Linked DNA regions of Homo sapiens: region 2 is linked to region 1. Evidence: fine-mapped expression QTL. Tissue or cell type: whole blood. Region 1 holds a variant in brackets; the other region holds the start of a gene. All regions are shown on one strand. Distances are from middle to middle.

Region 1 (5,145 bases):
CGCCGCCGCGTGGTCCCTGTACCAGGCCGGCTGCTCCCTGCGTCTCCTCTGTCCGCAGGCTTTCTCTACTACTGTGTGGCAGTTTTTGGCTGTGCTTCAAGAGCAGTTTGGAAGCATGGCAGGCTCCAACGTTTACCTCACGCCCCCTAACTCGCAGGGCTTTGCCCCCCACTACGACGACATCGAGGCCTTCGTGCTGCAGCTGGAAGGTAGGAAACTCTGGCGTGTATACCGACCCCGAGTCCCAACCGAGGAACTGGCTCTGACATCCAGCCCCAACTTCAGTCAGGACGACCTCGGTGAGCCGGTGCTGCAGACCGTGCTGGAACCTGGAGATTTGCTGTATTTTCCTCGGGGCTTCATTCACCAAGCTGAATGCCAGGATGGAGTCCACTCTCTGCACCTCACCTTGTCCACGTACCAGCGCAATACCTGGGGTGACTTCTTAGAGGCCATACTGCCTCTGGCAGTGCAGGCTGCAATGGAAGAAAATGTGGAGTTTCGGAGGGGTCTGCCCCGAGACTTCATGGATTACATGGGGGCCCAGCATTCAGATTCTAAGGATCCGCGAAGAACCGCTTTCATGGAGAAGGTGCGGGTCTTGGTTGCCCGCCTGGGACACTTTGCTCCTGTTGATGCTGTGGCCGACCAGCGAGCCAAAGACTTCATTCACGATTCTCTGCCCCCTGTTTTGACTGATAGGGAGAGGGCACTAAGTGTTTACGGGCTTCCAATTCGCTGGGAGGCTGGAGAACCTGTAAACGTGGGGGCCCAGTTGACAACAGAAACAGAAGTCCATATGCTTCAGGATGGGATAGCTCGGCTGGTGGGTGAGGGGGGCCATTTGTTTCTCTATTACACAGTGGAAAACTCCCGTGTGTATCATCTGGAAGAACCCAAGTGCTTGGAAATATACCCCCAGCAAGCTGATGCCATGGAACTGTTGCTTGGTTCTTATCCAGAGTTTGTGAGAGTGGGGGACCTGCCCTGTGACAGTGTGGAGGACCAGCTGTCCTTGGCAACCACGTTGTATGATAAGGGGCTGCTGCTCACTAAGATGCCTCTAGCCCTAAATTAGTTTCTTGTTGATTGCTGGAAACAAGGCAGTAGTGATTCTCCGCTGCCACTGCTACCTTTTTTTTTTTTTTTTCCTTAAACTCACGTTCTTACCTTGATAAGCATCAGTGTGCTCACATTTACCTTTATCACTGCTTCAGTGTCACAAACCTCGGAAGGTCTTCTAGGAAGAACCATCTCATCTAGGTACAAAAGGAAAAGGAGAAGTTGGAGGTGGAAAAAAAACCCTTGATCCGTGATCATTTCAGAGCACCAACTTCATCACCTTCAGGCTTCAGTGTACTGGGTAACACTGACCATGTCGTTCTGCTTGAGACAGATATTAGATTTTTTTTGGAATTTGGATCTTTCATCTGAGTTCTTTTTCATGGGCGGGTCGGGGTCAGTATCCTGTTTGTTATTGTTAAATTTGTATGAACCTTAGAAAAGTTATTAAAGTGCCAAAGAATGTTTCCCTTTCCTAAGGCTAGATTATTATGTGGGATGGTTCGAAGAAATGCAGGAGCGGGAGGAAGATAGGGAAAATCTATAATGGCTGAAGTGAAAAGCAACCTGGGGTGGTTGTAGCATGTAAAAGGAGCATGTTAATCAACCTCTTAAGGAAGAGACTCTCAGGCTGGGTGCGGTACTCATGCCTGTAATCCTAGCACTTTAGGAGGCCGAGGCGGGTGGATCACCTGAGGTCAGCAGTTTGAGACCAGCCTGGCCAACATGGCAAAACCCCATCTCTAGTGAGAATACAAAAATTAGCCAGGCATAGTGGTGCGTGCCTGTAATCCCAGCTACTAGGGGGGCTGAGGCAGGAGGATCACTTGAACCTGGGAGGTGGAGGTTGCAGTGAGCTGAGATCATGCCACTGCATTCCAGCCTGGGCAACAGAGCGAGACTCCGTCTCAAAAACAAAAACAAAAACAAAAAAGAATCTTATCTGATTGGGACCAGTTCACTAACTTTGGGGATAATTTATGCTATTTAATTATGCAACCCAATTCTAGTAGAAAAATTATTTTCTACCAGCTTGTTCAGTTTTAAGATCATGGTATGTTTTTGCTCACTGTTTGCTTACATCCATGGCTGGCACTGCTGTCATAAGGGCAGCATGTCACCTAGTTGTGCCTTCATAGACCTTAGGCAACCAACTTTTAGCAAGCTGGCCATGAAGGAAGGCTACTGTTCAAGTTACTTTCCACTCTCATTTTTATTCTGGCAGTTCGAAGAAACTT[C/A]CCCAAATCTGACAAGTGAATATTCTCATGGTTGGTGGAAAAGTGCCTGATGTACCAGAAAGAGCACTGGACTTGGAACCAGAAGACCTGGGTTTGGGGTGGTAGCTGGTAGGCAGCTGGCTGAGTGACCTGAGGCTGATGCTACGCTCAGGCACACAGATTTTGTAAGTATATTTTGGTACAGTTTGATTTCTGCACCCTCATCATTTAGGTTGCGTCTGGGACTCTTAAGAGTCTGTCACCATAATGGATAGTTTTCTGTTATTTAAGGTTGAGAACTTTACAAATTCTTTTTAAAAAAGTTACAAAAGCATAGACATACACTAAGTAAAAATGATAGTTCTCCCTCCAACCCCACTTTCCAGAGACAAGCACTATTTTTTGTTTGTTTGTTTTTTTGTTTGAGACAGGGTCCCACTTTGTTGCCCAGGCTGGGGTACAGTGGTGAGATATTGGGTTACTGCAGCCTCAACCTCCTGGGCTCAAGCAATCCTCCCATCTCAGCCTCCTTAGTAGATAGGACTACCAGTGTGTGCCACCACACCCAGATAATTTTTATTTATTTATTTTTTTGTAGAGATGGAGGGGTCTTGCTATGTTGCCCAGACTGGTTTTGAACTCCTGGCCTGGGGTGATCCTCCCACCATGGCCTCCCAAAGCACTGAGAGTCCAGGTGTGCGCCACCACGCCCAACCACCAACCACTACCACTATTAAGGTTAAGCTCATAAAGCTTTTTTGAGTGCTTAGTCAAACATACATGGTAGTATTGTTTTATAAAGACTTGTGTTTTTCTGATATGTCCTTTTTTGACCTAACTTTTAAGTCAGTTCAAATAGAGATAACTTTTTTTTAAGGGAGAAAATAAATGAATAAAAACCCGAGAAACAAACAAACAAAAAAAAAACACAAAGACTGAGTGGATGGTAGCCAAGAGGGAAGAGAGTACCCTTTCCTGACTCTTTCATCCTCTAAGGCTTGCTACTAAGTCCCAAAACATCCAGATCCTGGAAGAGGCTTATTAAAGGAATCAAGGCATGGAACTCACCCCTAGGAAACCTACCCTGAAAAGTTTCTTGGAGTAAAGTCTGGAGTGTTAGTGGTCCTTGTTCTCCTTTGGGTTTCAAGTAAACACGTTTTGCTTCCTCCCTCACTTTTCCCATGACCATCTCCAGCTTGAGTATTTTGTGTGTCAGCAAGTCCTTTTGGCTTAGTGTTTTAATCTAAATTAGAACAAATAATGTTTGAAAAACAAAACAAAACACCTGTACTAGGCAGCAAATTATCAAAAAACATTAATAAAGTGATTGTAGGAGGCTGAGGAGGGAGGATCACTTGAGCCCAACAGTTCAAGGCTACAGTGAGCTGTGATCATGCCACTGCACTCCAGCCTGGGCAACAAAGTGAGACCCTGTCTCTAGAAAATAAAGAAGTAACTAATTGCATATGCTTATCAGTAGTAGGTGGTACATAAGTGCCTGAGAACATTGTTCTCTTATGATATTGGTTGGAGATTTTTTATACCTGTTCGTGAAAATTTTACTTCAGCTTTTTGGGCATGATGAACCTGCTAAGAATTGCTTGCTTGATGTGAAGTTGGTTTCTTGAATTACCTTTTTAAAGTCCTTTCCCCTCTATTCCTTCATCTTATCTAACAGCTTTGAAAAATTAGAACAATCCAGGCCAGGCATGATGGCTCATGCCTGTAATCCCAGCACTTTGGGAGGCTGAGGCGGGTGGATCACTTGAGGCCAGGAGTTCAAGACCAGCCTGGCCAACATAGCAAAACCTTGTCTCCACTAAAAATACAAAAAAATTAGTTGGGTGTGGTGGCACATGCCTATAATCCCAGCTATTTTGGTGGCTGAGGCACGAGAATCACTTGAACCCAGGAGGTGGAGGTTGCAGTGAGCCAAGATCACACCACTGCACTCCAGCCTGGGCGACAGAGCGAGACTGTCCCCCCCTCAAAAAAAAAAGCAAAAATTATGTTAATCCTTTCAGCTAGAGATTTTCTTTGGTGAGAAAACCCAGATTAGGAATTCAGAAAAATTAAGAAGAAAATCTAGGGGGCCAGCTCTAGTCCCTTATTCCTTCTCTATGCCTATTTGAAAAAAAGGAAAAATAAACAACTTGGGTTTGGGGTTGATGGGGAGAAAATAGGAAGGGAGGGAAATAGTATTTCTGAAACAATGAGGGTTACTTGATAGGACTAATAGGATTTTTGTTTTGTTTTTGTCTTTACTAGTAGGACCTTGTAACCCAATCTTGCACAGATGCTTTGCATCTTCAAATGATGTGGCATCTGTGTCTGGGGTTTTAGAAAGTACTTCTATGGTGGGAAAAAGGGTATGTACATGTTTGAGGAGGACAGGGTCTGAGGAACTCTTGAGAGTCCTGAATTTTCTCTTGAGAACAGAGCTTGCACTTATTTACCCTGTTCTTGATCTCCTGAAGCATTTCTTGGTTTCCTTCATTTCCTAAGTTGAGTATCTTCATTGTCTGGTACATTTCTCTGAAAGATAAGAAGGGCTTCTTAGATTATTCTACCCTGCCCTTTAAAAAAGTATGGGGGTAGAAAATATAGGACTTGGAATCAGGTAAGAATCCCAAGTTCCAATCCTAACTGTGCAGTTTTGCTGAGCCTTATATGCAAAAATGGTATAATGCTTAGCTTACAGGAATAATGTGCAGTTTTTGAGACAATATATTTGTGGGTTTTTTGTTTACTTTTTGTTTTTGCGAGATGGAGTCTTGCTCTGTTTCCCAGAGCTGGAGTGCAATGGCACGATCTCGTCTCGGCTCACTGCAACCTCCACCTCCCAGGTTCAAGCGATTCTCCTGCC
Region 2 (5,145 bases), 97 kb after region 1:
ATATACTCCCTGTGCCCCCCAAAACTTGCATAGTTCCCTTATCTCCACTATCAACATCCCCCACCAGAATGGTACATTTGTTACAATTGATTAACCTTCACTGACATACCATTATCACCCCAAATCTCTAGTTTGCTTTAGGGTTCGTTTGTTCTACATCTACAGTTTTGGACAAATGTATAATGACATGTATCCACCATTACAGTATCATACAGAACAGCTTCACTGCCCTAAAAATTGTTCCAACTATTCATCCCTCCCTCCCCACAATCCCTGGCAACTACTGATCTTTTTACTATCTCCAATACTTTTGCTTTCTCTCTTCCTTCCCTTTTTTCTTTTCTTTTTCCCTTTCCTTTTTTTGAAAGTTTCGCTCTGTCACCGATGCTGTAGTGCAGTGGTATGATCTCAGCTTACTGCAACCTCTGCCTGCCAGGTTCAAGCAATTCTCCTGCCTCAGCCTCCCAGGTAGCTGAGACTACAGGTGCACATCACCATGCCCCACTAATTTTTGTATTGTTAGTGGAGGCGGGTTTCACCATGTTGGACAGGCTCGTCTAGATCTCCCAACCTCAAGCGATCCGCCCAACTCGGCCTCCCACAGCACTGAGATTACAAGTGTGTGCCCCTGTGCCTAGCCTACCTTATATTTCATCAAAAAGCTTTTTTTAAGTAAACTGACATGTATGGCCAGGCACGGCAGGTAGCTCCCACCTATAATCCTGGTGTTTCCAGACTGGTCTTGGTCTCACTGACTTCAACAACGAAGCCACAGACCCTCGCGGAGATGTTACAGTTCTTAAAGGCAGCGTGTCTGGAGATTGTACCTTCTGATGTTCCCATGTGCTCAGAGTTTGTTCCTTCTGGTGGGTTCGTGGTCTTGCTGGCTCAGAAGTGAAGCTGCAAACCTTTGCGGTGAGTGTTACAGCTCTTAAGGCGGCATGTCTGGAGTTGTTCGTTCCTCCTGGTGAGTTCGTGGTCTGGTAGGCTTCAGAAGTGAAGCTGCGGACCTTCGCAATGAGTGTTACAGCTCACAACAGCAGTGCGGGCCCAAAAACTGAGCTACCTTTATTACAAAACTAAATAGAACAAACCTTCCCGCAACGTAGAAAAGAACCCCAACAAGTTGCCACTGCTAGCTCTGGCAGCCTGCTTTTATTCCCTTATCTGGCCCCACCCACATCCTGCTGATTGGCCCATTTTACAGAGAGCCGATTGGTCCGTTTTGACAGGGTGCTGATTGGTTCGTTTACAATCCCTGAGCTAGACACAAAAGTTCTCCACCTCCCCACTAGATTAGCTAGATACAGAGTGCCGATTGGTGTATTCACAAACCCTGAGCTAGACACAGGGTGCTGATTGGTGTGTTTACAATCCCTTAGCTAGACATAAAGATTCTCCAAGTCCCCACCAGACTCAGGAGTCCAGCTGGCTTCACCCAGTGGATGCCGCACGGGGTTCGCAGGTGGAGCTGCCTGCCAGTCCCGCGCCGTGCGCCCGCACTTCTCAGCCCTTGGGCGGTCGATGGGACTGGGCGTTAGTGGAGCAGGGAGCGGAGCTCGTTGAGGAGGCTCGGACCGCGCAGAAGCTCACGGCGGGGGCGGGGGCTCAGGCATGGCGGGCTGCAGGTCCCGAGCCCTGCGCCGCGGGGAGGCAGCTAAGGCCCGCTGAGAAATCGAGCACAGCAGCTGCTGCCCCAGGTGCTAAGCCCCTCACTGCCCGGGGCTTGCGGGCCGGCCGGCCGCTCCAAGTGCGGGGCCGCCGAGCCCACGCCCACCCGGGACTCGCGCTGGCCCGCAAGCCCCGCGGGCAGCCCCGGTTCCCGCCCGCGCCTCTCCCTCCACACCTCCCAGTAAGCTGAGGGAGCCGACTCCGGCCTTGGCCAGCCCAGAAAGGGGCTCCCACAGTGCAGCGGCGGGCTGAAGGGCTCCTCAAGCGCGGCCAGAGTGGGCGCCAAGGCCGAGGAGGCGCCGACAGCGAGCGAGGGCAGCCAGCATGCTGTCACGTATCACTAGCACTTTGGGACTACAGAGGCAGGAGGATAGTTTGTGCTCAGGAGTTCGAGACCAGCCTGGGAAACAGGGTGACACCTCCTCTCTAAAAATAAACATTTAAAAATTAACGTGGCATGGTGGTGCGCTGTCTGTAGTCACAGCTACTCCGAAGGCTGAGACAGGAGGATCACTTGAGCCTGGGAGGTGGAGGCTGCAGTGACCTGTGATCGAGCCACCGCCTTGCAGCCTGGATGACAGAGAGAGACCCTGTCTCAAATACAACAAAAAAGCAGGCCGGGCGCAGCGGCTCACGCCTGTAATCCCTAGCACTTTGGGAGGCCAAGGCGGGAAGATCACTTGAAGTCAGGAGTTCAAGACCAGCCTGGCCAACATGGTGTAACTCCCTCTTTACTAAAAATACAAAAATTAGCGGCATGGTGGCGCGCGCCTGTAATCCCAGGTACTCGGGAGGCTGAGGCAGGAGAATCGCTTGAACCCAGGAGGCGGAGATTGCAGTGAGCCGAAGCGCCACTGCACTCCAGCCTGGGCGACAGAGGAGACTCTGTTTCAAAAAAAAAAAAAGTTAAAAACAAAACCTTCCATGGAGCCCATGAAAGGCTGGAATTTGGCTTGATCTCATTGGCTTTTGGTTTCACCACAAATTGATCATCCAACAACTTTCATTCCAACAACCGAGGGTGGTGTGAGGCAGAGAGGCTTTCTACGGGGTGGGTTGGGCGCCACACCTTGCGCGCCCCGGGGCCCAAGGAGACGACCCTGAAGAGGAGCCTGGCTACTTTTGCCTCAGACGAGTCCGGAGCGCCGGGTTAACCGGTCTGAAGTCCCAGGGGCTTTCTGGGACTGCTCAGCCACCGGCAGCTTCCGGCACCAGGGGACGCCGGACGCCGTCCGGACATTCGGCGCGCTTGCCACGATCTTGGACGGGTCTCGGGCCTCGACCTTTGAATTCCCCGCTCCGGCTCCAAGATGTCAGCAACGCTGATCCTGGAGCCCCCAGGCCGCTGCTGCTGGAACGAGCCGGTGCGCATTGCCGTGCGCGGCCTGGCCCCGGAGCAGCGGGTTACGCTGCGCGCGTCCCTGCGCGACGAGAAGGGCGCGCTCTTCCGGGCCCACGCGCGCTACTGCGCCGACGCCCGCGGCGAGCTGGACCTGGAGCGCGCACCCGCGCTGGGCGGCAGCTTCGCGGGACTCGAGCCCATGGGGCTGCTCTGGGCCCTGGAACCCGAGAAGCCTTTTTGGCGCTTCCTGAAGCGGGACGTACAGATTCCTTTTGTCGTGGAGTTGGAGGTGCTGGACGGCCACGACCCCGAGCCTGGACGGCTGCTGTGCCAGGCGCAGCACGAGCGCCACTTCCTCCCGCCAGGGGTGCGGCGCCAGTCGGTGCGAGCGGGCCGGGTGCGCGCCACGCTCTTCCTGCCGCCAGGTGAGCCAGGCTGCTGGCGGGTGGTGTGAGCGTCAGTGGCCTGAGTCTCCGTTTGTTTCCAGTGCTGATTTAGCACTGGTTTGGTTTTGGAGCAAGATCAGAGAAGCTAACATTGACTATGTCAGTGGCCACTCTACCAAAATAGAGGGTTTGGTACCGGGCGTGGTGACTAACGCCTGTAATCCCAGCACTTTGGGAGGCCGAGATGGGCGGATCACTTGAGATCAGGAGTTTGAGACCAGACTGGCCAGCATGGTGAAACGCTGACTCTACCGAAAATACAAAAATTAGTCCAGCCTGGTGGCACACGCCTGTAGTCCCAGCCACTCGGGAGGCTGAGGCACGAGAATCGCTTGAACCTGGGAGATGGAGGTTGCAGTGAGCCGAGATCGCACCACTGCACTCCAGCCTGGGTGACAGAGCGAGACTCCGTCTCAAAAAAAGAAAAAAGAAAAAAAAGGATTTTTTGTTAGGCTGTGTACTACGGTTTTTACTTGCATTCTATCAGTTAGTCTCTATAATATCCCAATGAAGTTGGTATTGTTATTCTGCAGATGAAAAAACAGGTTCAGGTCGTCAGGTACATTATCCACTTTGCTATTAATCACTACCCTACAGATTTCTACAGGCATCAGCCTGACTTGTCTAAGGCAGAATGATGACAGTGAATGAAGCTATTACCATGTCGTCTTCTCTAGTGTTCTAGGCACACTGTCTCTTCTCCACTTCTTCATGTGCTGCTTTATCACAGGTCACACTTCAGACTCCACTGCCTTTCTCACCTAAAACCATCTCTGGGTATTTCTTTTTCTTTCCTCCCTTTCTACATAGACATCTGAAATATCAGTACACTAAAAACCAGAGGGCTGATGCAACAGAACATAAAGTTTTGTTTCAATCTTTTTTCTTTTCTTTCTTTCTTTTTTTTTTTTTTTTTTTTGAGACAGTGTCTGTCTCTGTTGCCCACGCTGGAGTGCAGTGGTGTGGTCACACCTCACTGCAGCCTTGACCTCTGGGGCTCAAGTGATCCTCCCTCCATTGCCTCCCAAGTAGCTAGGACTACAGGCATACACCACCACACTGACTAATTAAAAAAAAAAAAAGATTGTAGAGATGGGGTCTCACTACATTGTCCAGGCTGGTCTTGAACTCCTGGCCTCAAGCAATCCTCCTGCCTTGGCCTCCTAAAGTGCTGAGATTACAAGCATGAACCACAGTGTCCAGCCAGGAAAGCAAATTCTTTAAATTGTATAATGGCTTACATTTATAATATTTTGTTCTCTAGGACCTGGACCCTTCCCAGGGATCATTGACATCTTTGGTATTGGAGGGGGCCTCTTGGAATATCGAGCCAGCCTCCTTGCTGGCCATGGCTTTGCCACGTTGGCTCTAGCTTATTATAACTTTGAAGATCTCCCCAATAACATGGACAACATATCCCTGGAGTACTTCGAAGAAGCCGTATGCTACATGCTTCAACATCCCCAGGTTCTCCTCATGTCCTTTATTTAATCAGTCTCTCTAGAAATATTTCCATAGAGAGTGTAACCTTTACCACGTGCAGAAATGCTGCTCTGTTCCTCTTTCACAAAGATGTCTTCTGGAGACTTCCTTGGCTTAAGGTGCTATTTCCACTTTTTCTGTCAGATGAATTTGTGATATAGAATTAATTGTAAAATCCACATGAGATTTTATTTAGTAATATTA

Evidence for each region. PIP is the estimated chance that this variant, and not a neighbour inherited with it, causes the effect.
Region 2: it holds the start of ACOT4, and the variant in region 1 is fine-mapped to the expression of ACOT4 in whole blood (TOPMed, PIP 0.96).

What each region holds. Positions count from the first base shown.
Region 1 is chr14:73,491,866-73,497,010 of GRCh38, forward strand. It overlaps HEATR4 (HEAT repeat containing 4), which reads right to left. Exons shown (of 18, transcript NM_001220484.1): 15 at 4,736-4,814; 16 at 3,363-3,522; 17 at 1,201-1,259. RIOX1 (ribosomal oxygenase 1) reads left to right here. Exons shown (of 1, transcript NM_024644.5): 1 at 1-1,529. The coding sequence ends at 1,078. It also overlaps a transcript of ACOT1 not described here. Among named protein-coding and RNA genes, the nearest start is that of RIOX1, 3.5 kb to the left of the region's middle. RefSeq lists an enhancer at 33-533. The variant C/A (reference allele first, on the strand shown) is at 2,301.
Region 2 is chr14:73,588,979-73,594,123 of GRCh38, forward strand. It overlaps ACOT4 (acyl-CoA thioesterase 4), which reads left to right and starts at 2,895. Exons shown (of 3, transcript NM_152331.4): 1 at 2,895-3,438; 2 at 4,724-4,926. The coding sequence starts at 2,982. It also overlaps a transcript of HEATR4 not described here. RefSeq lists an enhancer at 3,129-3,628 and a silencer at 3,440-3,509.